Linked DNA regions of Homo sapiens: all the other regions are linked to region 1. Evidence: fine-mapped expression QTL. A gene starts in region 1. Each other region holds a variant in brackets. All regions are shown on one strand. Distances are between the middles of the regions.

What was found. PIP is the estimated chance that this variant, and not a neighbour inherited with it, causes the effect.
Region 2: its variant is the best candidate, but not a certain one, in a credible set for the expression of PSMA3-AS1 in whole blood (INTERVAL, PIP 0.53).
Region 3: its variant is the best candidate, but not a certain one, in a credible set for the expression of PSMA3-AS1 in lung (TOPMed, PIP 0.74).
Region 4: its variant is the best candidate, but not a certain one, in a credible set for the expression of PSMA3-AS1 in blood mononuclear cells (TOPMed, PIP 0.59).
Region 5: its variant is the best candidate, but not a certain one, in a credible set for the expression of PSMA3-AS1 in subcutaneous fat (GTEx, PIP 0.55).

The regions. Positions count from the first base shown.
Region 1 is chr14:58,294,757-58,301,301 of GRCh38, reverse strand. It overlaps PSMA3-AS1 (PSMA3 antisense RNA 1), which reads left to right and starts at 3,165. Exons shown (of 4, transcript NR_029435.1): 1 at 3,165-3,347. ARID4A (AT-rich interaction domain 4A) reads right to left here and starts at 2,747. Exons shown (of 24, transcript NM_002892.4): 1 at 2,602-2,747; 2 at 1,442-1,504. The coding sequence starts at 1,447. RefSeq lists a silencer at 1,658-2,177 and enhancers at 2,808-2,897, 3,008-3,057, 3,078-3,497, 2,794-3,517.
Region 2 is chr14:58,315,177-58,321,721 of GRCh38, reverse strand. It overlaps ARID4A (AT-rich interaction domain 4A), which reads right to left. Exons shown (of 24, transcript NM_002892.4): 6 at 3,101-3,180; 7 at 2,917-3,011. Among named protein-coding and RNA genes, the nearest start is that of ARID4A, 20 kb to the right of the region's middle. The variant G/A (reference allele first, on the strand shown) is at 2,499.
Region 3 is chr14:58,343,772-58,350,316 of GRCh38, reverse strand. ARID4A (AT-rich interaction domain 4A) reads right to left here. Exons shown (of 24, transcript NM_002892.4): 12 at 5,550-5,622; 13 at 3,812-3,906; 14 at 3,200-3,297; 15 at 2,439-2,670. Among named protein-coding and RNA genes, the nearest start is that of ARID4A, 48 kb to the right of the region's middle. The variant G/A (reference allele first, on the strand shown) is at 3,521.
Region 4 is chr14:58,252,935-58,259,479 of GRCh38, reverse strand. PSMA3 (proteasome 20S subunit alpha 3) reads right to left here. Exons shown (of 11, transcript NM_002788.4): 4 at 1,634-1,735; 5 at 1,482-1,555. Among named protein-coding and RNA genes, the nearest start is that of PSMA3, 11 kb to the right of the region's middle. The variant C/T (reference allele first, on the strand shown) is at 3,770.
Region 5 is chr14:58,460,509-58,467,053 of GRCh38, reverse strand. KIAA0586 reads right to left here. Exons shown (of 31, transcript NM_001329943.3): 14 at 5,894-6,068; 15 at 1,025-1,219. It also overlaps the pseudogene HSBP1P1. Among named protein-coding and RNA genes, the nearest start is that of KIAA0586, 36 kb to the right of the region's middle. The variant C/T (reference allele first, on the strand shown) is at 3,088.

The sequences.
Region 1 (6,545 bases):
ATTATATAAGCAGAAAGATAAGAAAAAAACAGAAAAAATATTTCATATTACACATATCATAAAACTAAGTTATTCATTTATAGCTTCCTGAAATTTTTCAAATTAAAAGAAATATTGCTACTAATATTAACACTAACAATACATAATTGTTTATTGACATAGCCACATAAAGGTAACATCTTTTCATAAGGAAAGTATCATTTGGAAAATTCATTTGCTAAAAGCTGCACTTGAAAGGTTTTAAGTCTGAATTCAGCCGATGAATGCAGATATGAACTGATGGCTCCAGACTTGTAGGTATACCTAGTTTACCACACTAATCTTCTTAGTATAAAAAAATAAGCGTTACTAAGAAACATCTACTTTCAGCAAATGGACACGACCAGAATGATACATAGAAAGATGTAAGAAATGTCACTCTACCACTCATTTTAATTTTTACAGTAACAGGATGATTGCTATCTCAATCTGTCATTTTACCTTTTTTTTTTTTTTCCGGAAGTTAAAGTGTATCCATACAAGTTCAACTTAACATTGTTAAGTGCAAAGTTAACAGTGTACACTTTGGAGATACGTTTTGAAGTAGAAAATGATTTTTTGTTTTCTAATAAGTTTTCCCAAGTAATATTAAAGAAGGTTAAATATGTCATTTACTTCGAGAAAATAGAAAACCACGAGAAAGTTTGGGAAAATGCTATATTTCAGAGCTTAATATGCTGAAACAGTAAATAAGACAGGAATTGGGTACCTTTTAAAGTAAGTGCATTTACAAAAAATACAAATTGAATAGGAATGCTTTTGGCAAACAAAAATCTGACCTGAAACATTCAATGGCCACAGCATTCAAGAACGCTATATGAGATCCTTTCCCTTTAACCATCCACATACTGATATTTGCAGTCATCCTCAGTAGAATATGTATCTTTTTAGTATATGTTTTAAAATACTTATTGGAAAGATTTAACTAAAACTATTATTATACTTCAACTTCAAATATTTTAGCCACATAAGTTCATTTTACACACAGAAGAAATGATACCTTCATTACTTAATCCACGTATTCTTTCTTTTAGAAAATCGCATTGGCACACGGGAAGAAAAAAAATTTACAAAAAATCCCCCAAAGAACCAAAGCAGGACAAAAGCTTTACTTCTGCAAAGGTTGCTGCCAACACAGGAAGTGTTTAAAAATACTATCCGAATGGACAACAATTGAAAGGCTGCACCAGCCTTTCCAAAGTACTGCTACAGAGAGGGCCTAAACTCCGCATTTAGACACACAGATCATTTTTCACCCATTCAACACATCCTCCTATGCCGAAACTGCTGATCAGTAGGAACATCAATTTTGAGTAGCAAAACAAATGACATTCCACGGCACTAGCCTTAGGATTGGCAGTGTTCAGGGCGCGAGGATCGGGGCAGAGTTGACTCCACTTACCTTCATTTTTGTTGGTGATCTGTGGGGTTCCAGCTCAGCGAGCTATCTTCGCAGTCGCTAGAACTATGGGGAGGGGGAAAGACAGGCACAGACATAATCAGTCAACTGCGGGGAGCGACCAAGGGAAAGAAAGTAAACAAACGCCAGCGGGGAGGGGCAGAATCCTCACCAGCCAAGGGACAAGACCCCTTACGAGGGCAGCCAGGACGCAGGAGCTGAGGGGGCAGCGAGAACCCCACGAGCGCCAAAGGGCAGCCCGTTCCGCCCCGGAGCTCGCCAGCGGCCCACCGCGCCCCCGCCTCGCTGGCCACTTTGACCCGGAATGCTCAACTCGGAGCTCCAGGACAGATAGCTCCGGAAAAGGCCAGAGCTCCCTTCGGGCTTCCCCAGGTCCCCCGCGGAGACGACCGCCGAGCCTCCGCTCCGCGGTCCCCCGGATACCCCGACTTCGGCCCGCGCCCCGCCTCCGCCGCTCGGCCCCCTCGGCCCGCCCCGGGCCCGCGGTGGCGGCAGCGGAGTGTCACGGCGCCATTGCTCTCCTTCCTTCGCTCTGCACCATGTCAGAAAGGAGAAGCGCTCCTTCACCCAAAGGGGCAGGGGCCGCGGCCTTCAGCCGGGAGCCGCCAGAGCCCCGGGGGACCCGCGTGGGGGAGGGGGCGGGGGGCGGAGGGGAGGAGGAGGGGAGGTGGCCCGGACAGGGTGTGGGAGGGGAGGGGAGCCGCACCGCAGCAGCCGCTGCCTCCTCCCAGCGCCCGCCTCAACTTTTTGTACAGCCCAGAGAGGTATCAGCTCGTAGCCCCTCGAGTCCTGCCACGGACTCCGCAGAGGTGGACGCGCCGCGGAGTTGGGGGACGGCTCCCCCAAGCAGCCCGCTCTTCACCGCGCGGAAGCAAACTTAGCGGCGCGGCCAGCCCCACAGCCATTTTCCCGGGAACCCGAGGAAGCGGACGAGGAGGCGGCTGCAACTGCGGCGGCGGTTCCTGCAGTTGCTGCCGCTGGTCAATGGCTGGCCCCTTCCCTTGCGCTCGCCGTGCCACTTGCCTAGCATCCCTCTCCCCACCTCCAAAGCTTCCAACTGCACCGGGACCTCGGGCAGCAGCAGCTGCTGCTACTGCCACTTCGTCCATTCAGTATCCCCGGATTCCCCTCTCCCCACCTACCAACTGCGGGTGAAGTGCGCGCTGTCAGCTCCAGAGTCCTCCTCCCCTCTGACCTCCGTGGGCCCCCGTCCGGGCAGCACCACTCCCAGCCGCGGCTGCAGTTCCTGCGCCGGGTTCCCCACTCGCCCCGATTTACTGCCACAATCCACCAAATAACAAGCTGTTGAGCAGACTCGCTTCTACACGAACTCCTATTGGCTGCTCATGACGCCGAAGAGCTTCGGATAGGACCTCGCTACCTGCCGTCCTCATTGGATGTAGCTGTGAAACTTCATGGATTGGTGAGAAAAACAGCAGGTAGGACATCTTCCACTTATGATTGGCTTTTTCCGAAAACCAACTTTATTGGAGAGTTGGTTATTGAGTAAGCAAGTCCTGAGAAATGATTGGTAGAGACGACTCCGGATGTGCTTGACTGGGCACTGATTGGTGAATTGAGGGGTCAGGAAGAGCAGTTCGACACGAGGATTGGCGGCGGAGTGTCCCATGGAAACGGAACCCAGAATTGCAGCCAGGGGCTTGCACGGGGGCGGGGCAGGGTCTGTCCAAGGCGCTTGCGCTAAACCAGCTTGTCGGCGCCATTTTGTCTCGGCAGCGGTGGCCGTAGCTCCATCGCATTTTATGTTTCTGGCGAGAAGGGAACGGAGTTTTCATCAGGTAGATTGGTTTTTGTGCGGCCGTCCTCCACCGTTTCCTCCAGGACAGCACCTAGTCGTGGCCGGAGGAGTCTCAGAGCTGTCAGAAAGGTCAGTTGGAGGCTATGGTTGTCCGATTGACTGGGGGGATGGCGCAGCCCTAGCGGCACCGGCACCGGAAGTGAAGGGGCCGCAGGCAGCCATGGTAAACTTCTCCCTGCGGCGGGGTGGGGAGAAGGGGCGGGATGAATGGGGGCGAGGCTTCCTCTCCCGCCGAGATAAAGAGGTGGAGGAGAGGCAAACGTCTTTCTTGGAGGTTCTCTTTCGGGTTTTCGAGAATGTGAGAGATTTTCTGGGTTCTGTCCCACTGCAATCTTTCCTGTCTTTGGAAGTGCATTTCGGGGACTTGCCATGTTCTCCACCTGATTGGCACCAGCTGTGGGAGCCTTCTTAGTTAAGACAGGGAAGAAGTGGTTCTTAGAAACATCCTGCATGGGTAGAGGTTTCCGCGTGCTCCTCACGGGATAAAGCTATGAGGAAACTGGAGAAAGCGCTGGCTTTCTGGATGCTGAGGAATTTACTTGCCAGCGCAGACGCTTCTTCTGTGACCTTAGACAAGGGTCTGTCACTCTGCACGAGGCTTATGCTACTTTTTGAAAGCAAACAGTGGTTTTGCAGGGACTGAAAACATCTTAGACAAAAGGACGTCCCCGATAAGATAGACGTTGATCTTTTTCTGTTAACATCTTATATTCTGTTAAACGAAACACACATTTTTAAATAGCGGAATTGGAGTATAAAATTGACTAGTTTTATAGAATGGAGTAATTTTTAAAATGTGACATATCGTCAGTAATCCACGTGGACTAAATTTTCTCAGTAAGAAAACAGCCGAGCAGAATCAGTTTTTTATTCGTAACAGTAATTTTGCTCAAAAGTATTCATAAAAACGTGAAATGCATGTTGGCATTTCTAGTGAGTGACCTAGTCACACTGGATAGATCCTAATAGTTACCCTCAATACCTCTGTTTTAAACCCTACTGCTATATTGGTGGCGCCCATAACTAGAAAATGATTGTGTGACTTAACAATTACTGGGTTTTTTGGCAGTTGTGCTGAAGAAAACAGAACATCTCAGTGATTACTGAGGTGAGTCATAAAGTCTAAAAATCCTTAGAATTGCGGGGGACTACCTGGAAAAACTTTCTATGGATTAGTAAAGAAATACCAGAATGGGAGGAAGGGTAGTTAAAAGATGTTTTGTTTGGTCAGATTCAAATGAGTCTGTATAATTAGCTTTCTAGTGTAATATTTTAGAATGAAATCCCAAAATTAGGACATCCTTATGGACTTGTTTACCCATTTACGTGGTTCTCATTTCTGGACTTTGATATACCTCATGTTTTTGTTATAAAACATTATGCGTATTTTTGTGATTTCCTCCCCCCCACCCGCCTATTTAAAAAGTTCTTATATAGAAAAGATCTTGTAAATGGGAGTGTTTAGGAGTGAGGCTTTTTTTTTTTTTTTTTTTTTTTTTTTGGAGACAGAGTCTCTCTCTGTCATCGAGGCTGGAGTGCAGTGGCGCAATCTCGTAGGAGTGAAGCAGTTTTTTAAAAGACCTTATAAAACAATATATTACTGAATTTTCTAGGGGGTAAGCATCCATAATTCTACGATCAAAGTTTAAACTGTTATTATTGAATCCAAATAATGCATGGACATTTGGAAATTATTAAAAAGCCCAAAGAAGAATACAAAAATGTCTTCCCTCCTCCAAAAGGTAGTTACGGTTTACACTATAGTTATATATTATACAAAAGGCTTTGTCTTTTTTGTTGGTTTTGTTTTACCAAATATTCTAGTGTTGTTCATTACCGTCTATTCTTTATAGAAAACATTGGGAATATTGGAAATATCTTATCGTAAAGCATCTTTTATGTCTTCATAGTGTTTTGTGGGATAAATATATCATAATTTATGTAACGTGTTTATTTTTCTATAATGGCAGTAATATGTCAGTGAATATCCTTGTACATGTTTTGCAAAATATTGTGTCTAAGAAGGTCGTTGCAAAAGTAATCGTGGTTTTTGCATTATTGGAATTTGCCATTTGATGTTGGACTACGTTGTTAAATAAATGTGGTTATGTTATACATCATTTTAATGGGCATTTCTCGCTTTGTTCTTTTGGTAATGACTTATTACTCTCTGTTTATTTCATGTTTATTTTATTTTATTTTTGAGACAGAGTCACGCTCTGTCGCCAGGCTGAAGTCAGTGGCACCATCTCGGCTCACTACAACCTCTGCCTCCCAGGTTCAAGCAATTCTTCTGCCTCAGCCTCCCGAGTAGCTGGGACTACAGGCGCGTGCCACCACACCAGCTAATTTTTTGTATTTTTAATAGAGCCAAGGGGCTTCACCATGTTAGCCATGGTGGTCTCGATCTCCTGACCTCATGATCTGCCTGCCTCGGCCTCGTAAAGTGGTGGGATTACGGGCATGAGCCACGTGCCCAGCCTTCATGTGTATTTTAGACAATGAAAATGATGTTAGACAAAAAAGCAAATTCGAGCAGTTTTCGTTTTTGAGTTAAAAATGGGTTGTAAAACAACAGAGACACCATATCAGCAATGCATATGGTTCAGGAACTGTTAACTTACAGTGCAGTGGTGATTCAAGAAGTTTTTTTGTTGTTGTTGTTTGAGATGGAATCTTGCTCTTTCAGGCTAGAGTGCAGTGGCATGATCTTGGCTCACTGCAACCTCTGCCTCCTGGGTTCAAGCCATTCTGCCTCAGCCTCCCCAGTAGCTGGGATTACAGGCACGCACCACCATGCTCAGCTAATTTTTGTATTTTTAGTAGAGATGGAGTTTCACCATCTTGGCCCAGGCTGGTCTCGAACTCCTGACCTCGTGATCCGCCCGCCTTGGCCTCCCAAAGTGCTGGGATTACAGGCTTGAGCCGCTGTGCCTGGCAGTTTCAAGAAATTTTGCAAAGGGAAGGAAAGTCTTGAAAATCAGGAGCGTAGTGGCTGGTCGCCAGAAGTTGATAACTACCGGTTAAGAGCAATCAGCAAAGCTGATCCTCTTAAGGCTACTTGAGATGTTGCCGAAGAACTCAATGTGGACCATTCTACAGTCCTTCAGCATTTGAAGCAAATTAAAAAGTGAAAAAGCTCGATAAGTGGGTGCCTCATGAACTGACCGAAAAAAAAAGTCATTGTTTTGAAGTGTCCTTATCCCTTATTTTTTGCAACAACAAACCATTTCTTGGTCAGATTGTGATGTGCGAGAAAAAGTGGAT
Region 2 (6,545 bases), 20 kb before region 1:
TTTATTATTTTCTGGTTTGCAGCTTAGGTGTTATCTGACTTTGCCTTTAAAAATACTCATTATATACTCCCCAGCAGCAGTGAGTACATATCTAATACCAGGATCTTGGTTTCTAAATATTAATTCCCACTAAAATAAATGAGGGACCCTTGTAGAAATGGCCAATTCCAGGGTTGGCGCAGGAAAAAATTAACATGAGCCTAGGATACCTTGTCATGCCAGAAGGTGAAAAAGTGCTCAAGAAATGGTGAGGCCATATCAAAAGAACACAGAAGCCATCCTGGAAAGGCTCCCAGGCTCCCTTGGCTAAATCTGGAACAACCTGAATTGTAACCCATTAAGTAAAATTAGAATCCATAGCGTTAGGAAAAGAATTTCATTATAGCTAAGCGATAACCAAAAAATGTAGCAAGAATGAAAAATTAGAAAAATCAGCATTTTGCTATCATAATAGTACTAACTGATTCAGGCAAGAATTATTAGTACATGATAAAATTTGTGAATCAAAGTTTGACAGAGACTAGAATATTTAAATAGTCTCAAAGTATCTCCACACAGATTTTACAAAGGGGAAAAACGGTAACTATAGTAATTCTGAAGTTTAGAAATTTGGCAGGCACCACCTTAATCAAAGTTAGTATCACCAGATATGGGACAAACTGATAATACTTCTTGCTGTGCTTTCCTTCAGGACACAACATCACTTATGGAGTATAATATATAACCTGAATCTAACAATGAGAAAACAATCCAACATATTAGGGAACAGGTTACAAGACTATTGTCTTGTATTCTTCAAAAACGTCAATGTCATCGGCTGGGCGTGGTGGCTCATGCCTGTAATCCCAACACTTTGGGAGGCCGAGGCGGGCAGATCACGAGGTCAGGAGATCGAGACCATCCTGGCTAACACAGTGAAATCCCGTCTCTACTAAAAATACAAAAAATTAGCCAGGCGTCGTGGTGGACGACTGTAGTCCCAGCTACTCGGGAGGCTGAGGCAGGAGAATGGCAAGAACCCAGGAGGTGGAGCTTGCAGTGAGCCGAGATCCAGCCACTGCACTCCAGCCTGGGTGACAGAGCGAGACTCCGTCTCAGGGGAAAAAAAAAAAAAAAAAAAAAGTCAATGTCATGGAAGAAAAAAGGCTACAGAATTTTTTTAGATTAAAGGAGACTCAAGAACCATATAAACTATATGCAATGCATGATCCTGAATTGGATCCTGTAATCAGGGGAACTGGGGGACGCTATAAAGGCTATTATTGGAACAACTGACAAAGTTTGAAATATTAACCATATATTATGATAGTAGTCTATCAGCGTTAAATTTTCTAAATTTGGTATTCATACTTTGGTTATGTAAGAACATCTCCTTGTTCCTAAATATTTAATGATAAAGGATCATGATGCTTGCCACTTCCTCTCAAATAGTTCAGAAAAATAAAATTATTACAAAATATAAAAATAATTAGTATAGGCCGGGTGTGGTGGCTCACGCCTGTAATCCCAACACTTTGGGAGGCTGAGGCAGGTGGATCATGAGGTCAAGAGATCGAGATCATCCTGGCCAACATGGTGAAACCCTGTCTCTACTAAAAATAGAAAAATTAGCTGGGCGTGGTGGCACGCGCCTGTAGTTCTGACTACTCGGGAGGCTGAGGCAGGAGAATCGTTTGAACCTGGGAGGCAGAGGCTGCAATAAGCTGAGATTGCACCACTGCACTCCAGCCTGGCGACAGAGTGATACTCCGTCTCAAAAAAAAAAAAAAAAAAGAAAAGAAAAAAATTAGTATATATATAGAGAGGGAATCGTAAAGCAAATGTGTGAAAAATGTTAAGAACTGGTAAATCTAGATAAAGAGTATATAGACATTAGGCCAGGTGCAGTGGCTCATATCTATAATCCCAGTCAGCACTTTGAGAGGCCAAGGCGGGCAAATCACTTGACGTCAGGAGTTCGAAACCCATTTGGCCAACAAAGCGAAACCTCATCTCTATTAAGAATACAAAAACTAGCCAGGCGTGATGGTGTGTCTGTAATCCCAACTACTCAGGAGGCTGAGGCAGGAGAATCACCGAACCTGGGAGGCAAAAGTTGCAGTGAGCCAAGATCATGCCACTGCACTCCAGCCTTGGTGGCACAGACAAACTCCATCTCACCAAAAAAAAAAAAAAAAAAAAAAAAAAAAAAAAAAAAAAAGAGTATATAGACATTCATACACAGATATTCGTGTATTATTCTTGCAATCTTTAAGTTTGAAATGTTTTTGAAGTAAAAGATAAAAAACATATACTCACTTAAAATAGAAAAATCATCATATCAATTAAAAACTTTGGGCCTGGCGCAGTGGCTCAGGCTGGGTGTGGTGGCTCACGCCTGTAATCCTAGCACTTTGGGAGACTGAAGCAGGTGGATCACGAGGTCAGGAGTTCGAGACCAGCCTGGCCAATATGGTGAAACCCCATCTCTACTAAAAATACAAAAAAAAAAAAAATTA[G/A]CTGGGTGTGGTGGCACATGCCTGTAGTCCCAGCTTCTCAGGAGGCTGAAGCAGGAGAATTGCTTGAACCCAGGAGGCGGAGGTTGCAGTGAGCCGAGATTGCACCACTGCACTCCAGCCTGGGCAACAGAGCGAGACTCCGTCTCAAAAAACAAAATCAAAAACAAAACAAAACAAAAAAAACTTCGGCAAAGTAACTTAAAACAAAAATAATCTATTAGAAGTAAGAGTTGTTATCATTCCTGGGCAAATATTGGGAATAATTAAGAACAAGGTCCACTCAGGGTAAAATGTCTAACATAAGGATACAATATGCTATGGAAAGCTTACCCAAATGAATTTAGCCATCCTAACAAAATCCCTTGTTTAAGGTTATAATAATTGTAATTAAAATGATACCATATATGAAAAAACTCACACAGGAAGAGAAGATCTCCTTCCTCTGTTCGTCTTCTTTGCAATTACTGGAGTTCCAAAATGCTCTGGATTTGTTAATGGAAGCTGGTCAAGTGTCTGTATAAGAAATAGATTAATTAAATTACGTTTTACCTCTAGATCAGTACCTGTAGTTCAATCCAAATCGTCCATCCGTGTCACCCTACCTCACTCTCTGCAAAATGTCTCTCTCCTTTCAGACAAAGTGAGGTACGTCTCAATGTTCGCTCATCACCATCATCAAACACTATAATAAGCAAAAGATAACAGAGAATTTATGCACACTAATGAAATAAAAACTTAAAAGCACAGAATGCTATTATTGCTATTAATTAGAGCTTAATATTTGTAAGAACCATTATTTTAGTCATTTTTCAAAACCTTTACAATGAGCATACCATGCCATATTTTTCATTCTACAGATACCAAAAACACAGGTTAAATGGCTGCCCACGACTGCTTAAGTATTTCCATCTGCTTTTTTGATTTCTATCACTACAGAACCACCTTCTTAACTCATTAGCAACCTAGTCAAAGCATAAATATTAAATTAACTGCAATCCTAGAAGAATGAACAAAAACCTGATTAAAAAAAGTATTATGGATTTTTCCACAAAAGTTTAATATTAGAGTACCCCTAACTTCCAGAAACTGACTCCTGGTATTGCTATTGAATTATTCTACTGCTTCTATTTATTTGCATGATAACCTACTACACATGTACCAGCTGCCAAATTCTAAAGTCATAAGATACAAGTTCTTTCTTTTGTTAGAAAAGGATGTAAGTAGTCTGTTTAAAAAAACTTTTTTTTTTTTTAATAAAGACAGGATTTTGCTATTTTACCCAGGTTGGTCTCAAACTCCTGGCCTCAAATTATCCTCCCGCCTAAGCCTCCGAAAGTGCTCGGATTACAGGCATCAACCACTGTACCCAGCTGAGAAGTTTAGAAATAAAGGTTGAAATAAGGAAACAGAAAGATAAAAGTTTGTAGGGCAGGCGTGGTGGCTCATGCCTGTGGTCCCAGCTACTGGAGAGGCCATGGTGGAACGATTGCTTGAGCCGCGAAAAACCAAGGCTCAACCATGGTTAGTGAGCCATGATTGTGCCACTGGGTGACAGCAAAACCAAGATTCTGTCTCAAAAAAAAAAAAAAAAAAAAAAAAGACAAATATAAAGGTTTTTTTAAAAAGAAACTTTAGGCCAGGCGCGGTGGCTCACGTCTGTAATCCCAGCACTTTGGGAGGCGAGGTGGGCGGATCACGAGGTCAGGTCAGGAAATCGAGACCATCCTGGCTAACACGGTGAAACCCCGTCTCTACTAAAAATACAAAAAAAATTAGCCAGACGTGGTGGCGGGCGCCTGTAGTCCCAGCTACTCGGGAGGCTGAGGCGGGAGAATGGCGTGAACCCAGGAGGCGGAGCTTGCAGTGAGCCGAGATTGCACCACTGCACTCCAGCCTCTACGACAGAGCAAGACTCCGTCCCAAAAAAAAAAAATAAAAAAGAAGAAAGAAAGAAAGAAACTTTAAAAAAAATCATAATTACATAGATGCTTTCTCAAATTTTTTGCTTTTACTACTTTTTTTTTTTTTTTTGAGACTGAGTCTCACTCTGTCCCCCAGGCTGGAGTGCAGTGGCGCGATCTCAGCTCACTGCAAGCTCCGCCTCCCGGGTTCACGCCATTCTCCCGCCTCAGCCTCCCCAGTAGCTGGGACTACAGGCACACGTCACCACGCCCGGCTAATATTTTTGTATTTTTAGTAGAGATGGGGTTTCACCATGTTAGCCAGGATGGTCTCCATCTCCCGACCTTGTGATTCACCTGCCTCAGCCTCCCAAAGTGCTGGGATTACAGGCGTGAGCACCGCGCCTGGCCTTTAGTACATATTTTAAAAAATCATACTACTTGGCCGGGCGCGGTGACTCCCGCCTGTAATCTCAGCACTTTGGGAGGCCGAGGCGGGCGGACCACCTGAGGTCGGGAGTTCGAGACCTGCCTGACCAACATGGAGAAACCCTGTCTCCACTAAAAATACAAAATTAGCCAGGCATGGTGGCACACGCCTGTAATCTCAGCTACTCGGGAGGCTGAGGCAGGAGAATCTCTTGAACCCGGCAGGCAGAGGTTGCAGTGAGCAGAGATTGCGCCATTGCACTCCAGCCTGGACAACAAGAGCAAAACTTCGTCTAAAACAAACAAACAAACAAAATCGTACTACTTGACTATATTTAAACATTTCAAGGAAATGGGGTAAGGAATTTTACAATTTATCCCTAATATTCTCCTAATCACTAACAATATATTATTTTGATAATTGTATAGGTTTAACTTTTGAGACTGTATTCTGATTTTAGCATCCAACATTTATAGTTTATTAAAAAGAAAATGCTCTCAGAAGGTACCTCATTGCCCCAGGTTATGAATAAAATAAGATATAATCTTTACTTCAGACACTTAACATCCATATTCACTTAACAAGAAAGCATACATATGTACCCAAAAACAATTATCAAGATTTAGTACTAATTTTCACAATTCTAGATACTTTTTTCCATTCTAACAGAATAAGTCAGTGTTAACAAAAAGAAATTCTACATTACATTCATTTGATATCTTAGAATTTTTTAATTGGTTACCTATGAAATTATAATCCTGAATTATTTTCTGAAAAGGTTGTTTTATTAGCAAACACTTTGCCTTCAAATCCTACGCTTACCTTTAATGAATAAGTTTTTTGAAAGAAAATTATATAAAAGCTTTCAACATGTTAAATATTTATTTACTTCAATCAGTTCTCCCTCTTAGACTACAGATACCTAGCTTAGATTCTTTTACATGCAGGAGACAATGTGGAAAAAATTAAAAACTCCCGAAGCACATACTCAAAGAACCATGATTCTAAAAAAGCAGCTGTGCTATACACAGTCAATGATCCAGAAATTAATGACTAGCTGCAGGCACAATGACAGGTTAAAACACAACATCCTCCAATGATTACATCACTGATCTGCACTTGAGTAATAGGGTGCTAAATATTTGATATAAAAACTATGATTCATATAGTGTCAAGTCTAAAAAATTAACCACTGTTCTCTTAAAGTTTTTAAATCATTAAATTATCACAAACCAAACAATATAATTCTTGTTAGTATTAGTATCTGTAAGTATAAGATTTCAAAAAGAATAAAACCTGAAAGGTTTTCAACTTTTCTTAATGCCTACAATACCAAAGATGACGATACTAGACACACACACACATTTAAATGGAGGTATGAAAAAGGAAAATGTGAATGTAAGACCAACACTCCAAAATTTATATAACAAAATATTTTCTATAATGTTTTATCATTAATCAATGGCAGCCCTAAACCAAAATGTTCTGATGAAAAATTTCAACAATTTCAACATTTTAAACAAAATATTTCAGCAATTTTTGAATTTCAACAATTCAAAAATTTCAATAATCACTTTGAAATAAAATCAGATTTTTGGAAGGAAAAATTCATTTCACTTAAATATACCTTATCATGGATAGAAATTTTTTTTTAAAAAAAGAGATTGCTCAAAAGGGGATTATGATACAAACAACTATTTTACAGTTTTATATAGG
Region 3 (6,545 bases), 49 kb before region 1:
TAGGATACAATTAATATCTCAGTAAACAAATGTTTTCCCTAGTTGCTGGCTATGTGCTATTTACACTTCAAAGGCAGAAAAAGAAGAAATTAATTTCTTTCTATCTTAAAGCACTAACACACAAGTTCCAAGATGGCACTTCCATCTCCTCAGATCTACACAGTGGCTGGCACATAGCAGGTGGCAGGTGCTTTTTTTTTTTTTTTTTTTTTTTTTAAGACAGAGTCTCGCTCTGTTGCCAGGCTGGAGAGCAGTGGTGTGATCTCAGCTCACTGCAACCTCTACCTCCCAGGTTCAAGCGATTCTCAGCCTCCTGAGTAGCTGGGACTACAGGCGCGCACCACCATGCCCAGCTAATTTTTGTATTTTTAGTAGAGACAGGGTTTCACCACGTTGGCCAGGATGGTCTTGATCTCTTGACCTCGTGATCCGCCCGCCTCGGCCTACCAAAGTGCTGAGATTACAGGCGTGAGCCACCGTGCCCGGCCTAGCAGGTGCTTTTAAAATATCTATAGGTAAATGAATGAAAACAACTGCTATAAAATTTGGGTCTGTATACCTTTGTCCCAGAAATACTGTTTTTATTTATTTATTCATTTTTTTGAGATGGAGTCTCGCTCTATCGACCAGGCTAGAGTGCAGTGGTGCGATCTCAGCTTGCTGCAACCTCTGCCTCCTGGGTTCAAGCACTTCTCCTGCCTCAGCGTCCTGAGTAGCTGGGACTACAGGTGAGAAATGCCATTTTTAGAAGCCTGGCTTATATATGTGGATAAGTGATGAGGATATTTTTACAAGCAAATGTATTATAGCACTTTTTTTTTTTTTTGTATTTTTAGTAGAGATGGGGTTTCACCATATTGGCGAGGCTGGTCTCGATCTCCTGATCTCGAGATCCACCTGCCTTGGCCTCCCAAAGTGCTGGGATTACAGGCATGAGCCACCGCGCCCGGCAGCACTTTTTAAAATAGTAAAAAACTGGGAGAAAATCTTGGAGAAGGTAGATTTATGGTTCATCCATACTAGACAGCACACTGCAGATATTTTATGTAGGATGAGGAAGGTTTTTAGGTAATGAAAAGAAAGTATGTCCACAATACATACAATAAAATATTATTCACCTTTAAAAAGGAAGGAAATTCTGATATGTGCTACAACATAATGTCTTACAGACATTATGGTGAGTGAATAAGCCAGTAAAAAAGGACAAACACTGTATGATTTCACTTATATAAAAGTACCTAGAATATCAAATTCATAGGTACAGAAAGTAAAACTTTGATTGCTAAGGGTTGGGGAGGAATGAGGAGTTACTGTTTAATGGGTACAGAATTTCAGGTTTGCAAGGTAAAAATATTCTGGAACTGGACGGTGGTGACACTTATGCAACGGTGAGAATGTACTTAATGCCAATGAAGTGTACACTTAAAAAGAGTTAAGGTGGCAAATTTTATGTTATATGTACTTACCACAATTTTAAAAAAAATTAAAAAAAAACAATTTGGAAATTTCATGACATTCACTAGAAGATTCCATTTACTACATGAAGGAAGTTTTGAAAACTGGTTTCTGAACTATAAGACAAAGCAATTTCACATTCTCTTTCATTAAATATGATTCCACCAAAAAATAAGACATAGTAATTAAACTTCTTTGATAGTGTGGTAAATTCCTTTCTCTTTCTAAAATTTGATAAATCCTACTATGTAACATCACTGGACACTGATCCAAATGCTAGATGACAATTCCTAAATAGACCTTATATATTAAAGGAAAGAAGGAGCAAAGTTGGAAGATACAACCAGCATACATGTACGCATCACTAGAGCTACACAGTGTGCTATAAAGTTACAAAGACAAGATATCATCTAGTTTAGGGCACAGGCACTATAAAGAGGTGATTCATTTATTCAACATCTATTTAATAAGCCTTTATTATGTGCCAGGCACTATTCTAAATGCGTGGCATCTGTCAATAAACGAAATAAACACTAATCCCTGACCTCGTGGAGTGTGATTCTAGTGTAGAGTGGGGCAAAATAGATAATCACAATAAACAGAATAAATAAGTAAATTACAGAAAGAACAACATCAGAGGGACTGAGAGTTCCAAAGAGAGGAGGCAGGTTACAATTTCAGATAAGGTGACCAAGACAGCCTTCAATGAGGTGATACTTTAGCAGAAGACTGGAAAAGGAATATCTGGGATTCATCCCAGACAAGAATGACTTGATCGAATATAAACAGAAAACAGAAGGAAGGGTTTTCAGGTAGAGGAAATAATATACAATATATTTCGAAAAAAGTAGCTAGCTAAGCAGCATTAAATACTGGAAAATAAACTAGGTTCACTGTAGTACTTTTGTGTATATATGAAAATGGCTATAATAAAAAATTTTAAATAATACTTAAACCAGATAAAACTAGTATTAAGAACTCACCCTCGGAGATTTTAATTCTATCTCTTCTCTTTCACTTTCACTGTTTGAATCGATATTTTCCTCAGGTTCACTCTTCACTTCTGTTAAAGGCATTTCTTGATCTAATTTGAGAGCCTCTTCCATTGATTCTTCTAAGTCTTTTTTTTCCTCTTTTACTTTTGGTTCATGGTGATGAACAGTTCTGAACTGAATATTTGCCGAACGGCAGTACTCCTCAAAACCATAGAGATACCTAAACAAACAATATTTCATTTAAGAAATCTTACAGTCTTTGCATCTAACTTGAATTCATGTTATTAAACACATTTTTAAAAAGTAAAGCCCAGTAATTTAAAAAAATTTTTGTTACTCTTTTCTGTGTTACTATTTTCTTGGTGTTTTAGATAGAATCATAAACAGAAAAACTGATCATAAAATGCCGTCCTGAGACGTCTGAGCTTGTGATAGCTAAACATAACTATCATAAGTTTTGATATGAAGGCTGTTCACCCCAAAAGATGTAGCTCTGTAATATGTATCATAATCGCAGACACTACCTGCATCCTGATTTTGGAAAGGAAATCAGGACAACATAAGAAATGGAGTAAAGCAGATTAGATGCGCTGAAATAACTTTCAATCACAAGTATCTGTCAACCTAAACCTTTTTATATACTTTCTCTAACTTTAATGTTTCTAGATTGATGTATTCTTGTTAACAAAGTAAATGGAAAATATTTCCTATAAATATATATTCTTTGATGAATAAACTATACTACTTACTTTCTATAAGCAGTTTTTACATTGTAGGAAGCAGCTGAATTCAAAATAGGAATGCCAAGGTCCATATAAATTTGCTTCCATACAGCACCACTATCAATCTGGAAAATTAAGTTTTTATGTTAACATTTGCAAAGGGAATTAATCTTTTTTTTTTTTTTTTTTTTTTTTTTTTTTTTTTTTTTTTTTTTTTGAGACAGGGTCTCACTCTGTCGCCCAGGCTGGAGAGCAGTGGTGCAATCAGGGCTCACTGCAGCCTCGACCTCCTGGGCTCAAGTGATCCTCCCACCTCAGCTTCCCGAGTAGTTGGGACCACAGGCATGC[G/A]ACACCATGCCTGGCTAATTTTTGTATTTTCTGTAGAGATGGGGTTTCGCCATGTTGCCCAGGCTAGTCTTGAATTCCTGAGCTTAAGCAATCCACCCGCCTCAATCTCCCAAAATGCTGGGATTACAGGCGTGAGCCACCGTGCCTGGCCAGGAAAAGATCTTTATCCTAATATTCTATGTTCATTAAGAAAATGTATTTATTATCCAATGTGCATATAATAATGCAATATAAGATAACTTAACTTTTTACCACATCAATACATGTTTCAAAAAGCAATGTTATACTTACATTGTCACATCCACCCTGATGATAAACCAGTCTGAAGAGTTTGAAGAGATTGAGATCTTTATAGCCCAAAACAGGTGGTTTGTTGATTGGAGTACCTTTTCAATGTAAGTAGGTAGAAATAAAATGTTTATTCAAATGAGAAATACTAATTTGAAAACAAAGCGGTCAATTTCTAATTTCCCCAATTTCATTAATTAGAGGCACATATTTAAAGAGCCTTAAACAATGTAAAACAACACAAGATAATTCTCTTGTGTTGTTTTATATATAATAATTCTTTTTTATATGTTTTATATATAATAATATATATAATAATTCTCTCTTATTTATATAGCTTTGTGGGGATCTTCAGATTTTAGGTGTTATACTAATAAAGCTACCTCTTTAACTGCCAATGAATTGAGTAAAACTAAAGTAAACACTGCATGGTGTGGCCAACAATGTTGCTGGTTCAAGACGCTTGGGCATAGGGCTGGGTGCAGTGGCTCACACCTGTAACCCCAGCACTTTGGGAGGCTAAGGCAGGAAGATCACTTGGGCTCAGGAGTTTGAGACCAGCCTGGGCAACATGGTGATATCCTGTCTCTACAAAAATTAAAAGGAAAACATTAGCTGAGTGTGGTGGTGTGCACCTGTGGTCCCAGGTACTTGGGAGCCTGAGGTGGGAGGACTGCTTAAGCCCAGGAAGTGGAGGCTGGAGGGAGCCATGTTCACGCCACCGCACTCCAGCTTGAGTGACAGAGTAAGACTCTGTCACAAAAAAAAAAAAAAAAAAAAAAAAAAAAAGTTTAGGCATAAACAAACACAACAGAAAAGATAAGATTTATACCCTGGTTCCACTTTCACTACTTTGACACAAATGTTAAGACTGTTAGCAGTAATCTGAAGGATGATTTCTGAAGGCCACACAGAATGTTTAGGACCAATTTATCTTAAGATTTTCTAGGACTAACAAATGGCAAGGAGTATGATGGTTTATAATTGTTCTATTATTCTACCTATATTAGAAATCTCATCTTTTTCAGATAACGATTGGTCTCCTATTATGTTTAATTTGCTGAGAACAAGGATCAGGCTAGTTTATCTAGTTTATTTGCCACAAATATAGCATTAGTAATTAGTGGGTATGCAGATTAACATAACTGGTCACTTTCTATTTCTGAAATATCAGAATATTCTTTAGCTTTGTAAGTGACAGGGAAAACTAAATTGTATCAAAATATTTTCTCACTTGTTTCTATGTAAAATAGGTATGAACAGTTTAATTCCAAATATTTTACTACTGTCAGGTGTAACTGATTCTAGGATTTATTTAAAATCCAAAACTAGACAGTCATGATGGTTCACAGCTGTAATCTCAGCACTTTGGGAGGCAGAGGTAAGAGGATCACTTGAGGCCAGGAGTTTGAGACCAGCCTCGGCAATATGGCAAAACCCGTCTCTACAAAAAATAGAAAAATAAAAAATTAGCTGGGTATGGTGGCACGTGCCTGTAGTCCCAGCTACTCGAGAGGCTGAGGCAGGAGGATCACTTGAGCCCAGGAGGTCAAGGCTGCAGTAAGCCAGGAGCAAATCACTGCACTCCAGCCTGGGCATCAAAGCAAGAACCTGCCTCAAAATAAATAAATAAATAAAATCCAAAACTGTTTATCTGCAATACTAACAAAAACAATGCATATACCTAGAATGTAAACATGAAAAAGAAATGACTACTTTAAAATAATGAGCATGAAAATACCTCTGTCTTCCATAAACTTATAAAGCTGCTGGAGGAAGTTGTCCCTCTCTTCAGGATCAAGTTCTTCCTCAGGCTGTAAAGATAAAATATATAAATGTATGGCACAGTGAACTGGAAAAGATACATGTCTTCTTTTATTTTTGTGAACCCAATGTAAAGTCATCAAATTTTAATAAAGCTGAAAAATCTGAATTTTCTCAATATCCTACAATGACAGATTTTAAGTCATATTTATGAAGATATACAATGTCTACCCTTCACTCCATTTACCACTCTAACTCTACTTTTCAGTATCACTGTAAGGACTAAGATTAGCCAAGAGGAAAACATTCAGGAATAAAATGGGAGTGTTACGTTTTCACCTCACCTGATATATTTTTTTTAAAGCCCATTTAAATACTATGTGGCCCACACAAATATACTGGCAGATGAGCACAATAATGACACATGTTCATTATATCATATATTTATATATAAAAATAATTTTCATATAAACATAGTTTTTGTTATTGCCAGATGAATATAAACCAGGGATTGCAAAGTCACAGTGGCAAAGGATTTCTGTTTAGATGGCACAATGTTTTAAAGATATTTAAATACATTTAAGTGAGTCATATACATTCTATTTTACCCCAGACCTCATCACCCCCTCATCTCACAATAACCTGGTTTTCTCTTTTGCCTTTCTAGTATGGCCCCTGTACTTGACTTTGCAACACCTAAAAATAAGATAACAAAATAATTCCAGAAGTAATTCTTAGGGAAGGAAACTAGATACATAATTACTGATTTAGCTTCTTTTAAAATTCTTAAAGTTTAGCACTACTAGAGAAAAACAAAACACTGATATGTTTCCTCCATATAAATGATCATAACTTAGAGTATTACTCTCCTCTGTTCTAAAAGAAGAGCTCAGATTTTTGTCTTTTTTTTTTTTGAGATGGAGTTTTGCTCTTGCTGCCTAGGCTGGAGTGTAATGGCACGACCTCGGCTCAC
Region 4 (6,545 bases), 42 kb after region 1:
AGCCGGGCGTGGTGGCAGGTGCTTGTAATCCCTGCTACTCAGGAGGTTGAGGCAGGAGAATAGCTTGAACCCGGGAGGCAGAGGTTGCAGTGACCTGAGATCGTGCCACTGCATTCCAGCCTGGGCGACAGAGCGAGACTCCATCTCAAAACAAAACAAAACAAACAAAAAAAAAGTTATGAAAAAAAGTTATCTCTACTATTCTTACTCCCTTAAAAAGAGTAGAGAAGTTAACTGATGAACTCAGAGCTCAGTTGAAAGGTATTTTACATGGTCTGAAAACAAAGTGTTTCATAATGTAATTTAACTGAGAAGCTTAAGAATGACTAATGTCAGCCTGGGCAGCATGGTGAGACCCCGTCTCTACAAAAAAAAATTTTGTTAATTAGCCAGGCATGGTGGCCCATGCCTGTGGTCCCAGCTACTTGGGAGGCTGAGGTAGGAGCATCGCTTGAGCCAGGTCAAAGCTGCAGTCAGCCATGATGGCACCACTGCACTCCAGCTCAGGTGACAGTAACTGTCTCAAAAAGTAAAAACAAAACCCTAATGTAATATTACCAATAGAATAAAACTCAAGTTTTCTTTAATATCTTAGTAATTAAATATGACTGATGATAAACAACTCAAAGGTAGGACTACAGCTGAGCACTCAGATGTTAGTATATGTATTATTTTGACCAAACATGTTTGACTGTTTTAAGTCATAAGCCAAACATGTCTTTTCATTTTAGAAAAATCTAGTCACAAGTCTTCTCTGTGAAGCCAAATTTGAATATTTATACCTATTCCAGGTCTTTATGCAGCTGAATCTCCACTTTACCCCACAATAAAATATCAGCACTTCAACAGAAAGAGAAACCGTGCCTAATGGGAATTGTGAGACGTAATTTTTAAAATTACCTAAGAATATCAGGGACTAACACCGAGAGCTTATTATAATCAGATTAAAGTCATTGTTATCAGTTCCTTGTTTTATAATCACTTCAGATCTATATAGTCCTTTTCACTATTGAAACCTTTTTTTTTTTTTTTTTTTTTTTTTTAAAGAGGCAGAGTCTCTATTGCGCCAGCTAGAGTACAGTGGTATGGCCACAGCTCATTCCAGCCTTCAACTCCTGGGCTCAAATGATCCTCTCAAGCAGCTCCTAAGTAGCTGTGACTACAGGCATGTGATACTGCACCTGGCTAAATTTTAAATTTTTTTTGTAGAGATAGGTTCTCACTGCGTTGGCCAGGCTGGTCTCATACTCCTGGGCGCGAGGGATCCTCCCACCTCAACCTCCCAAAGTACTGGGATTACAGGCTTGAGCCATGGCACCCAGCCTCAAGTAGTTTCTATGTACACTGTTTTATTTAATCATTGCCCTAATACTTATCGACGAGTTTCTATTTTTAAGTATGTAAAAGGCTAAGATGCTGGGGAACATAATAAATATCTATAGTACAGATCTGCCTTTTGAATAATTCACAAAATTTCTTACCTGCAGCCAAAAGGTCTAACAGCACTGTAGAGTGTATATGCATGCACATACATGGCCACTCTGTCTGCAAGATGCTATGGAGGGAAGCAGAAGAGCTTATTAATAAACTTCTATTACTGTCCAAAAGGTTCCTCAATATGTTATCAACTTACTTTTAGTGGAATGTTGTAGCCAAAGTTAGATCTGAAGTTGGAAGCTTCTTCTCTTGCTATGTCTGCTAAAGAACGAGCATCTGCCAACAAACCTGCTACTGCCTGAAAAAAAAGCACCAATTTACTAGAGGAACACATTCCTATCACAAATCAAAGTCTGCAATTAATAAAGACTTATTAAACATTTTTTTAACAAGTATTACCATTCAAAATAAACTTTTTTGGCTTAAAGGTCTCTCTACAAGGCATTTTGATGCTTGAGTATGAAATTATAATTTAGAAATTTAGTAAGTATAACTTCATTGCTTTGTCCAATGTTCATATTCAGGACATTTCCTTTTTTTTTTTTGATACGGGGTCTCGCTCTGTCACCAGGGCTGGAGTACAGTGGCATGATCTCCGCTCACTTCACACTCTGCCTCCTGGGTTCATGCCATTCTCCTGCCTCAGCCTCCTGAGTAGCTGGGACTACAGGCGCCTGCCACCACGCCCGGCTAATTTTTTTGTATTTTTAGTAGAGATGGGGTTTCACCATGTCAGCCAGGACGGTCTTGATCTCCTGACCTCGTGATCTGCCTGCCTCAGCCTCCTAAAGTGCTGGGATTACAGGCGTGAGCCACCGTGCCCGGCCAATATTCAGGACTACTTCTATCATAAATCCTCTTCCCCTGATTTACTACCACTACCTCATTATAACGAATAAAAACCATGGGTCTTGGTCAGATTTTTTTTTTTTTTTTTTTTTGAGACAGAGTCTCACTGTGTCACCTAGGCTGGAGCACAATGGCACCATCTGGGCTCACTTCAACCTTTGCCTCTCAGGTTCAAGGGATTCTCCTGCCTCAGCCTCCCCAGTAGCTGGGATTGGCTAATTTTTATATTTTTAGTAGAGACAGGGTTTGGTTTTGTCATGTTGGCCAGGCTGGTCTTGAACTCCTGACCTCAGGTGATCAGCCTGCCTCAGCCTCCCAAAATGTTGGGATTATGGGTGTGAGCCGCCGTGCCCGGCCCAAATTTGTTCTTTTCTCTAAAGTTATTACAGGTTGAGGATATCTAATCCAAAAATCTGAAATTTAAAACGCTTCAGAATCTGAAACTTTTTGAGTGCCAACATGACACTCAAAGGAAATGCTCAGGCCGGACCTGGTGGCTCACACCTGTAATCCCAGCACTTTGGGAGGCTGAGGCAGGTGGATCACAAGGTCACGAGTTCAAGACCAGCCTGGCCAAGATGGTGAAATGCCGTCTCTACTAAAAATACAAAAATTAGCCAGGCGTGGTTGCAGGCACCTGTAATCCCAGTTACTTGGGAGGCCGAGGCAGAGAATTGCTTGAACCTGGGAGGCGGAAGTTGCAGTGAGCCGAGATCGCGCCACTGCACTCCATCCTGGGCAACAGAGCGAGACTCCATCTCAAAAAAAAAAAAAAAAGGAAATGCTCAGTAGAGCTTTTTGGATTTTGAATTTTCAGATTAAGGATGCTCAGCTGATGAGTATATAATGCAGATATTCCAAAATCGAAAAATATCCGATATACTGCTGGTCCCAAGCATTTTAGACGAGAGATACTCAACCTGTAACTGTTTTGTTCTAAAAGGCACAATCGCAAATCTTTTTTCAGCCTATTGGCTGAATAAACTACAATGATAAACCATTCCTCTTTCAAGATTTGCGGCTTAGAACTGCAGTTACTAGGCCGGGCACGGTGGCTCATGCCTGTGATCCCAGCACTTTGGGAGGCCGAGGCAGGGGGATCACCTGAGGTCAGGAGTTTGAAACCAGCCTGGACAACATGGTGAAACCCCTACTAAAAATACAAAAATTAGTCAGGTTTGGTGGCGGGCACCTATAATCCTACCTACTCCCAAGGCTGAGCCACAAGAATCACTTGAACTCGGGAGGCGGAGGCTGCAGTGAGCCGAGATCACGCCACTACACTCCAGCCTGAGCAACAGAATGAGACTTTGTCTCAAAACAAAAACAAAAACAAAAACAGAATTGCAGTTACTATGTATGTGCCGAGAGGTCCTCAGGCACTGCAGTGAAATCACATGTTAGTGTGGCATATCTTTTTTTTTGAGATGGAGTTTTGCTCTTGTTGCCCAGGCTAGAGCACAGTGGTGCAATCGCGGCTCAC[C/T]GCAACCTCCACCTCCCAGGTTCAAGGGATTCTCCTGCCTCAGCCTCCCGAGTAGCTGGGAGTACAGGCATGCGCCACCACGCCCGGCTAATTTTTGTGTTTTTAGTAGAGACAGGGTTTCTCCATGTTGGTCAGGCTGGTCTTGAACTTTCGACCTCAGGTGATCCGCCCGCCTTGGCCTCCGAAAGTGCTGGGATTACAGGTGTGAGCCACTGCACCTGGCCTAGTGTGGCACATTCTAAGTTTGGAGAAAAATGTCCAAGTAGTTCCGTTTGAACATTAGATCGTTTTACTACATTCCTTTCAATGCCACCACATCTTTGAGAAGCTTGGCTGTTAGTGGTTGCTGTGAAAAAAAGTAAGTACTGTGCAAAAATCAGTGTGGAACAGGAAATGACAGTGGCCACATCCAAATTTGGGAGGTTGTGCAGTGTATATACTAGAAATTTTGGTTGCTTAAAATAAAACATTTTAATTTTTAAATAAAAATATTTTTCACTATGTGTGTATTTAAAAAAAAAAAACGGCTACTAAGTTTTTAGGATGTAAACACTAAGTTCTTTGGATCTAAATACTTAATAAATGAAACCATTAGGTATTTTCGGCCTAGGGAAGCCATGAGAAAAACTACTGAGACACTTAAGGTACCATAAACCAACCAAGTTTTTGAAACCCTCTAGCCCAGGACAGTTACAGAATTTAAAAGTGGTATCACAATCTTTAATAGCCTTTTTTTCCTACGCTACCCAGTAATAGTAATAATGATAATTACTAAGAGATACTGAGCACTCATTACATGTTAAGCATTTTGCATAATAATTTTTAACCTCACAACAACTGTATGTGCCAAGTACTATTATCACTCTTGTTTTGCAGACAAGGAAACGCGTGTTTAGAATAGCTTCCCCAAGGTAACCCATGCCAGTAAGTTACATCACTTAAAGAATCTTCTGTTGCTTTAGAGAAAGCTTACTGTAAAGTCATATAATTCTCAAATCACTTGAAGATGACAACTGTGGAAGGAGGGAGGATATTAAGTCTTAATTTTCTCCAGCCCTCTTCAATGTCTAATGTTGACAGGGCACATTGGCTCATGCCTGTAATCTCAGCAACTCAAGAAGCTGAGGCGGGAGGATCGCTTGAGCCCAGGAGTTCAAGACCAGCCTGAGCAACACAGCAAGATCATATCTCTTAAAAAAACTAAAAAATTAGCCAGGTGTGATGGCACACTTGTAGTCACAGCTATTTGGGAGGCTGAGGCAGAAGAATCACTTGAGCCCAGGAGCGCAAGGCTGCAGTGAGCTATGATCATGCCACTGCACTCAAGCCTGGGCAACAGAGCAAGACCTCTGTGTGTGTGTACATACATATATATATGCATGCATAATTTTTTTCAAAATATTAACTTTTGCTAGTACATAAAAGAATACAAGATCACCTCCTACTAGCTAGGTTACAATGTAGCAAGTTTCATCAAAACATATCAGTTTCACTGGCAATAATAAATCTGTTCAGCATTATTCTTAGCAAACTAATACAAGAAGAGAAAACCAAAAACCACATGTTCTCTCTTATAAGTGGAAGCTAAATGATGAGAATTCATGGATACAAAGACAGGAACAACAGACAATGGGGCCTACTTGAGGGTGGAGGGTGGGAGGAGGAAGAGGATCAGAAAAAATAACTATTGGGTCCTAGGCTTAGTACCTGGGTGACGAGAAAAATCTGTACAACAACAACAACAAAAAAACAGTAAAAAGAAAATGTATATATACACAATGGAATACTATTCATCCTTTAAAAAGAATAAAATGCTAGGCTGGGCACGCTGGCTCACGCCTATAATCCCAGCACTTTGGGAGGCCAAGGCGGGTAGATCACTGGAGTTCAGGAGTCCGAGACCAGCCTGACCAACATGGTGAAACCCCGTCTCTACTAAAAATACAAAAATTAGCTGGGTGTGGCGGCGTATGTCTGTAATCCCAGCTACTTGAGAGTCTGAGGCAGGAGAATTGCTTGAACCCGGGAGGCAGAGGTTGCAGTGAGCTGAGATCGCGCCATTGCACTCCTTCCTGGATGACAGAGTGAGACTCCATCTCAAAAAATAAAATAAAATCCTGTCATTTGCAGCAAAATAAAAAAATCTGTTCAGGAGAAACATATTGTTGAGATAAAATAATCTTTGAAGAAGAAAAAAATTAGCTTTATGGTTTACTGGTTATACTTTACCAGTACTTTTTGTGTTTGTGTGTAACATTAAATCTCATTTAGATATAAGAAAGCTATCAGCTGAACGATGTGGGTCATATAAGGTGTCTTTTCATTTAGAAAGGGCTCTTGAGTAACATGCAGACCCAAGTTTGAATCCCAGCTTTTCTTTACTTGCTGTGCATCTGTTTTTTCACCTGTGAAAATGGCATTAGGCCGGGCGCAGTGGCTCACGCCTATAATCCCAGCACTTTGGGAGGCTGAGGCGGGCAGATGGATCACTTGAGGTCAGGAGTTCGAGACCAGCCTGGCCAACATGGTGAAACCCTGCCTTTACTAAAAATATAAAAATTAGCTGGGCATGGTAGTGGGCACCTGTAGTCCCAGCTACTTGGGAGGCTGAGGTAGGAGAATCGCTTGAACCCAGGAGGCAGAGGCTGCAATAAGCTGAGATGGCGCCACTGCACTCCGGCCTGGGTGACAGAGCCAGACTCTGTCTCAAACCAAAAAAAAAAAAAAAAGAAAATGACATTGATATAACCTTCACTGGGTTGTCAAGATTAAACAA
Region 5 (6,545 bases), 170 kb before region 1:
CATACTTAAATTGTTAATCAAAACAAAAGAACAGCAATGACACTAAAGGGAAAAAAGAGCTAATTAGACTTGAACAGCTGGTGTGAGGACAAAAATGATCTGTTCAATTTTTAACATGAAGACTCAGAGAGAAGGCAAATAAGTAAATAAACAACTATTGGCTTAGATTACACACCCACACAGCTTTCACTTATGATAGCCTAGTTCAAAAGTACAAAAAAAAGTACCTTAATACTTCCCCAAAGACATAATGATATTAACAAGATAATCAAACTTATTGAATTATTATGAATGTCCATGACATATTTAAACTTTCTTTTTTAAGAGACAGGGTCTTGCTGTGTTGTCCAGGCTGGAGTACAGTGGCATAATCATTGCTCACTGCAGCCTCAAACTCCTGGACTGAAGGGATTCTCCTGCTTCAGCCTCCAGAGTAGCTAGGACTACAGGTGTTAGCCATCAAGCCCAGCTAATTTTTTTTTTTGAGACAAGGTCTTGCTATGTTGCCCAGGCTGGTCTCAAACTCTTGGTCTCAAGCAATCCTCCCATCTCGGCTTCCCAAAGTACTGTGATTAAAGGCATGAGCCACTGTGCCCAGCCAAAATATTGTTTAAAATTTCATTTCATCTACAATAATATAACATACCAAAAGAATTTTTCCTATTGGTGAAACTACAGCAGGAACCCATCATTTCAGAGATTGCTATTACACAGCATAAAATACATTGTGAGGCCTTCCCCACAAAAACAAATAACATTTACAAGAAAAGGTAGATGACTATCATGTTAGTACCATTTTGTAAGTTCTGCTACTGCTGATAAGAATTTAAAATTCAATGGCTGGGCACGGTGCCTCACGCCTGTAATCCCAGCACTTTGAGAGGTTGAGGTGGGTGGACTGCTTGAGTCCAGGAGTTCCAGACCACTCTGAGCCACACAGTGAAACCCCGTCTCTAATAAACACACAAACAAACAAATAAATAAATAAAATAAAATCCATCCCACATATTTTGTTGATTCTTACCTAAAAGAATTGCCATAGGAATCAGATGACCTTCCAATGTACCTGAAAAAGTAGGCATTTCTCTACTTGGGCTGAACAAATATTGCTGATCGCCATGAGGTAACACAGGAACAGAATGTTTCATTTTAGAATCCATCTTCTTAGGTTTTGTTGCATAGAAGTCAGTCTGTGTTCTTATTGACTTTACCTTAGTGCCTATAATAATCACCAATGGCAGATATTTTAAAATATTGTTAGAATATCTACTATCCAGACATCTAGAAATACAACAGCTCTTCACAGAAAAATCTTAATTCTATATAAGGTTACAAGGCCCCAAAACAGAAGTAATATATAGACCAGAGGTAGCAAACTTCTTAAATGGCCAGACAGTAAATATTTGTCTGGCAGGCCACGTGATCTCAGCTGTAATGACTCAGTTCTGCTGTTGTGTCATGAAAGAAGCCATGGACAATATATACATGAATGAACACAGTTAGAGGCAAATGAAACTTTATAAAAACAGGCAGCTCACGTGTAGGCCACAGTTGCCAGCCCCTGAATAGACATACAACTTGTACAGCTACTGTGACAAAATAGATATAATAACTAGAAAAAAATGTTAAATAAAGATTCTGAAGAATATTCCAACAATGTTTGAATTCTTTAAATTTTTTTCCATAGGTACGAAAAAGTTAATGATCATTTTTGGAATTGATGATTTTCATTTTCTCATTACACCTTTACACACAACATAATTCTGAATAACCAGCTTTATCTTTTTAAATTATGTACAGACAATCAAATTCTATACTTACTTAAACCTTACTAATTAATATCATTATACAGTAGTCTCTCCTTATCTGTGGTTTCTCTTTCCCTGTCTCAATTACCCAGGATCAACCTTGGCTGGAAAATATTAATGGAAAGTTTGAGAAATAAACAATTCATAAGTATTTAAAAATTATTCATTAATTTTTTTTAGATGGAGTCTCACTCTACCCAGGCTGGAGTGCAGTGGTGCGATCTTAGCTCAATGCAACCTCTGCCTCCCAGGCTCAAGTGATCCTCCCACCCTAGCCTCCCGAGTAGCCAAGACCACAGACGCATGCCACCATGCCCGGCTGTCATAAGTTTTACAATGTACGCTGTTCTGAGTAGCGCGATAAAATCTCATGCCGTCCTGCTCCATCCTGCCCAGGACATGAATCATCCCTTTGTCTGGGGTCTCTACACTGTAGACACTACCTGCCCATTAATAACTTAGTTACCATCTCAGTTATCAGATTAAAAGAACATAGTACATGTTAGGGCTTGGTACTATCCACAGTTTCAGGCATCCATTGAGGGTATTGGGACACATCCCCCATGAATAAGGGGGGACTGCTGTACATTTTTTTCTGTTCCTATGATGTATACATACACATATAGCCATTATATCCTAAATCTTAAAATATTAAAAATTTGACTTTATGTCTCTTTGGAGAAGTGAATAAATGTCTATGGAACACACACACAAAAAAGTAAAGAATAAAGTAAGCGGGCAAAGGAAGAGGCTAAAATATTTTCTTAATAATTTCCTGACATTACATTTTTACTTTTAACATGTGGGTGCTTTTTTTTTTTTAAATGCAGGAACTGCCAAAGTTTTAGTTTTTAATAATTAATAGTACAACTGACCAAGGTCCAAGATGTGAAGATACCACATTCAAGAAACTGGGGGATAAACCTTTATAAACTAACTATATAGTATGTGATAAGAATGCACACTTTATAATATAAAACCTGTCTACACACAGTAGTTAGCTGAAAAAAGCCATTCAGTCTTCTCTTGGCTCAGAAAAATGATGTTCCAGATTCCATTATATAAATTATTAGCAACCCTCAACTCTTTTGTGTGGCAGGTATCTTGTTTTCACCTTCCAGTTCTTCCAGCCCAGCCTGTGTCATGGGGTCTGTGATGTTCTTCTCCAGATCATCAATGTGACTACTCATATCATCAATTCTCCCAATTATCTGGTCATAGTCTGAAATTTATCTTGCATCTGCTGCAGGGGTGTCTACACCACCGAGGTGAGGTCCTG[C/T]AAGGTCTTGGGGTCAGTCTTGGCCATCTCCCCAGTGCCCAGGTTGGTGGTGATGTCTCAGACCGTCACCTACACTTCCACTTCACATGTGGGTGTTTCTATGTATCTAATTTTTTAATGTATCTAATTTTTTTTTTTTTAGAGACAGGGTCTTGCTCAGTTACCCAGGCTGGAGTGCAGTGGCACTATCATAGCTCACTGCAACCTTGAATTCCTAAGCTCAAGTGCTGAAGTGATCCTCCCACCTCAGCCTCCCAAGTAGCTGGGACTACAGGCATGCCCTGCTAATTTTTTTAATTTATTGTAGAGACAGGATCTAGCTATGTTGCTGAGGCTGGTCTCAAGCAATCCTCTTGCCTCAGCCTCCCAAAGTGCTGGGATTACAGGCATGAGCCACTGTGCCCAACCTACACATCCAGACTTTTAAATATAGTTTCTTTTTGTTTATGACCCCAGGAAGAAAAATTGTAATACCATGTCTATATTCTTTCATCTTGTTCTCTGATAGTCATTCTATTGAATGAATATTTTTCTTAAGTGTTTATTTAAAATGTTTGTTCAGCATTTAATATGTGTTAAACATTGTTTCTGGCACAAGGAATACAGAGGTGACTAAACCAACTGTACTCATGGAGCTTACAGTCCAGTAGTGACAAATAAATAATAAAACAAACAAATAAAAATATAACACAGGAAATGTGAAGTGCCATGAAGAACAATATGGCAGAGTGAGGAGATGGAGAGGAACAGGAGATAATTCTTTGAATAGAATGGTCAGGGTAGAGCACTCTAAGGAGCTATCATCTAAGAGCGGAGACGGAAGAATTGAGAGAGAGAACCATGCAAGTGTCTGAACGAAGAGCTCTCCAGACAGAGGAAGTGGCAGGTACTGAGGCCCTAGGATAAGCATAAGTCCTTAGGTTCTGATATGGCTTGGCTCTGTGTCCCTACCCAAATCTCATCTCAAATTGATCCCCATGCGTCACGGGAGAGACCTGGTGGGAGATGACTGGATCATGGGGGCAGTTTCCCCTAATTTGTTCTTGTGATAGTGAATGAGTTCTCATGAGATCTGATGCTTTAAAAGGGCATGGCTTTCTTTGCTCCCTCTCTCCTGCTGCCATATAAGACATGCCTTGCTTCCCTTCGCCATGACTCTAAGTTTTCTGAGGCCTCCCCAGAGATGTGGAGCTGTGAGTCAATTACACCTTCTTGTCTTTATAGATTACTCAGTCTCAGGTAGTTTTTTATAGCAGTGTGAAAATGAACTAATACAGGCTCTTAATCACTTCTGATCATTAAAAGCGTTATTGAATAAAGTTATTTTTGGATTTGAAAGCATTTTAAAGCCTCAAATTATTTTTTGCAAAGACTTTCAAAACCCCCCATATAAATTAATAGCAAAGCTACACTAGGCCGGGCACAGTGGCTCACGCCTGTAATCCCAGCTCTCTGGGAGGCTGAGGCGGGTGGATCACCTGAGGTCAGGAGTTCAAGACGAGCCTGGCCAATGTGGCAAAACCCTGTCTCTACTAAAAATACAAAAAAAAAATTAGCTGGGCATTGTGGCGCATGCCTGTAATCCCAGCTACTCGGGAGGCTGAGGCAGGAGAATCGTTTGAACCCGGGAGGTGGAGGTTGCAGTGAGCCAAGACTGTGCCACTGCACTCCAGCCTGGATGACAGAGCAAGACTCCGTCTCAAAAAAAAAAAAAAAAAAAGCAAAACTACACTAAATAAGAGAAAACTTCAGGGTAAATACCATCCATTAGGATAAATATCACCCATAAGCTATATGCTTTCTATTTTAAATTAGTAAAATTTCTATATAACCTGACACTGTATATGATTGCATAACCTTTAGAAAGCAAAGGGAACCAAAGTAACCACCATAGCTCCAACTTCTAGAAAGGATAAGAGAGGAAAATGGGTTTGTATCTACTAGTTATCACATATTGTCAGCTGTAGCTTACTGATTGCTAAGCAGAAGCTGAGAAACTATAATACATAACCAAAGTCAACAGACTCAGTATATAACCAAAAGTTGTATTTAAATACACAGTACCAGTGAAACAGTAGATGTGACTCAAAATACACAGTGATACATGAAGATGTTTTCAGTTGTGCACAAAAGCAACAAAAAAGTTTTCACCTTTCTACCTAAGTCTCTTTGAAAACCAAACTGCAAAAGTGCTCATCAACACTTTTATAATAAACAGCAAATGGCTGATCTTTCTGTTCATAATGCACCTAGGTCTTCAGGAAAATGTCTACTTTCCTAGATTATAATTTAGATGCTCAAGATTCATCATCACCCACTGTGGGCAATGTGGTGAAACCCTGTCTCTATAAAACATACAAAAAAATTAGCCAGGCGTGGTAGTGTGCACCTGTCATCCCAGCTACTTGGGAGGCTGAGAGGGGAGGATCACTTGAGCCCAGTAGGTCGAGGCTGCAGTGAACCATGATTGTGCCACTGCATTCCAGCCTGGGGGATAGGGTGAGACCTTGTCTAAAAAAAAAATTAAAAAAAAAATCATTTTCTCCTAAATAAAAATTTTATGATGCTTTATCTGAAGATGCCATTTAATCCTACATTTCTTCCCAATTATTCCTATCTTGTGTCTTTTTTAAAATGTTGGTCTATTTCTTCCTACCTCTCCTAAGAGGAATTATTTTTCCATCCCCAAGCATCATATAACTTGAATGGCACGTATAAGCAATAAATAAAAAGCAAAAAGAAACTTTACATATTAAACTGATACTATTAAGAAATGAGATTAAACATTAAAAATGAGATTCCTTACCTTTAACTCGTTCTATTACTTTTGGTCTCTGTGGTCTGGACTTAGGAGATGGAGAATTAAATCTGAGATATGGTCCTTTTTTAAGAGTGCTTCGATGGCCCTGATAAACTGGCTTTCCATAGACTTGTAACATATAATCTTCATCTTGTATTACTGTGGTTGCTTTCAAAAGCCCCTGTGTGTACAAAGTTATTCAACTCACCATGAAAACAGTCATCAAACACTTATCTCATTTTTCTAAAGCCTCCTTTTGCTAGCTTAAGTATTATAACAAGAATGATTAAGTAAAAAATAACCTCTGTTTTCAACAGCCCTTAAATTCTAGATAACAGGTTTCAAGCATTAGTTTGAAAAGCTTTAAATATAAAAATCATCCACCTAAGAAACATGAAAATTTTTACATTACTAAGTATATTTTCAGCACCAACAAGAAACATTTAAACACATTTTACATATTTATTATACTCCAGTACAATAAAAATACAACAACCTTAACCTTTAAATAATTTTATATATTTCTGAACCCACCTTCAACCATAATCTAAATGTCACAGAAAGGGAGCATTTACTGAGAATCTACTAAGTATAAGCATTGAATTAGATGCTTTACTGATCTGCTCAACAATCCATGTTTGGCACTTAGAAACTTATA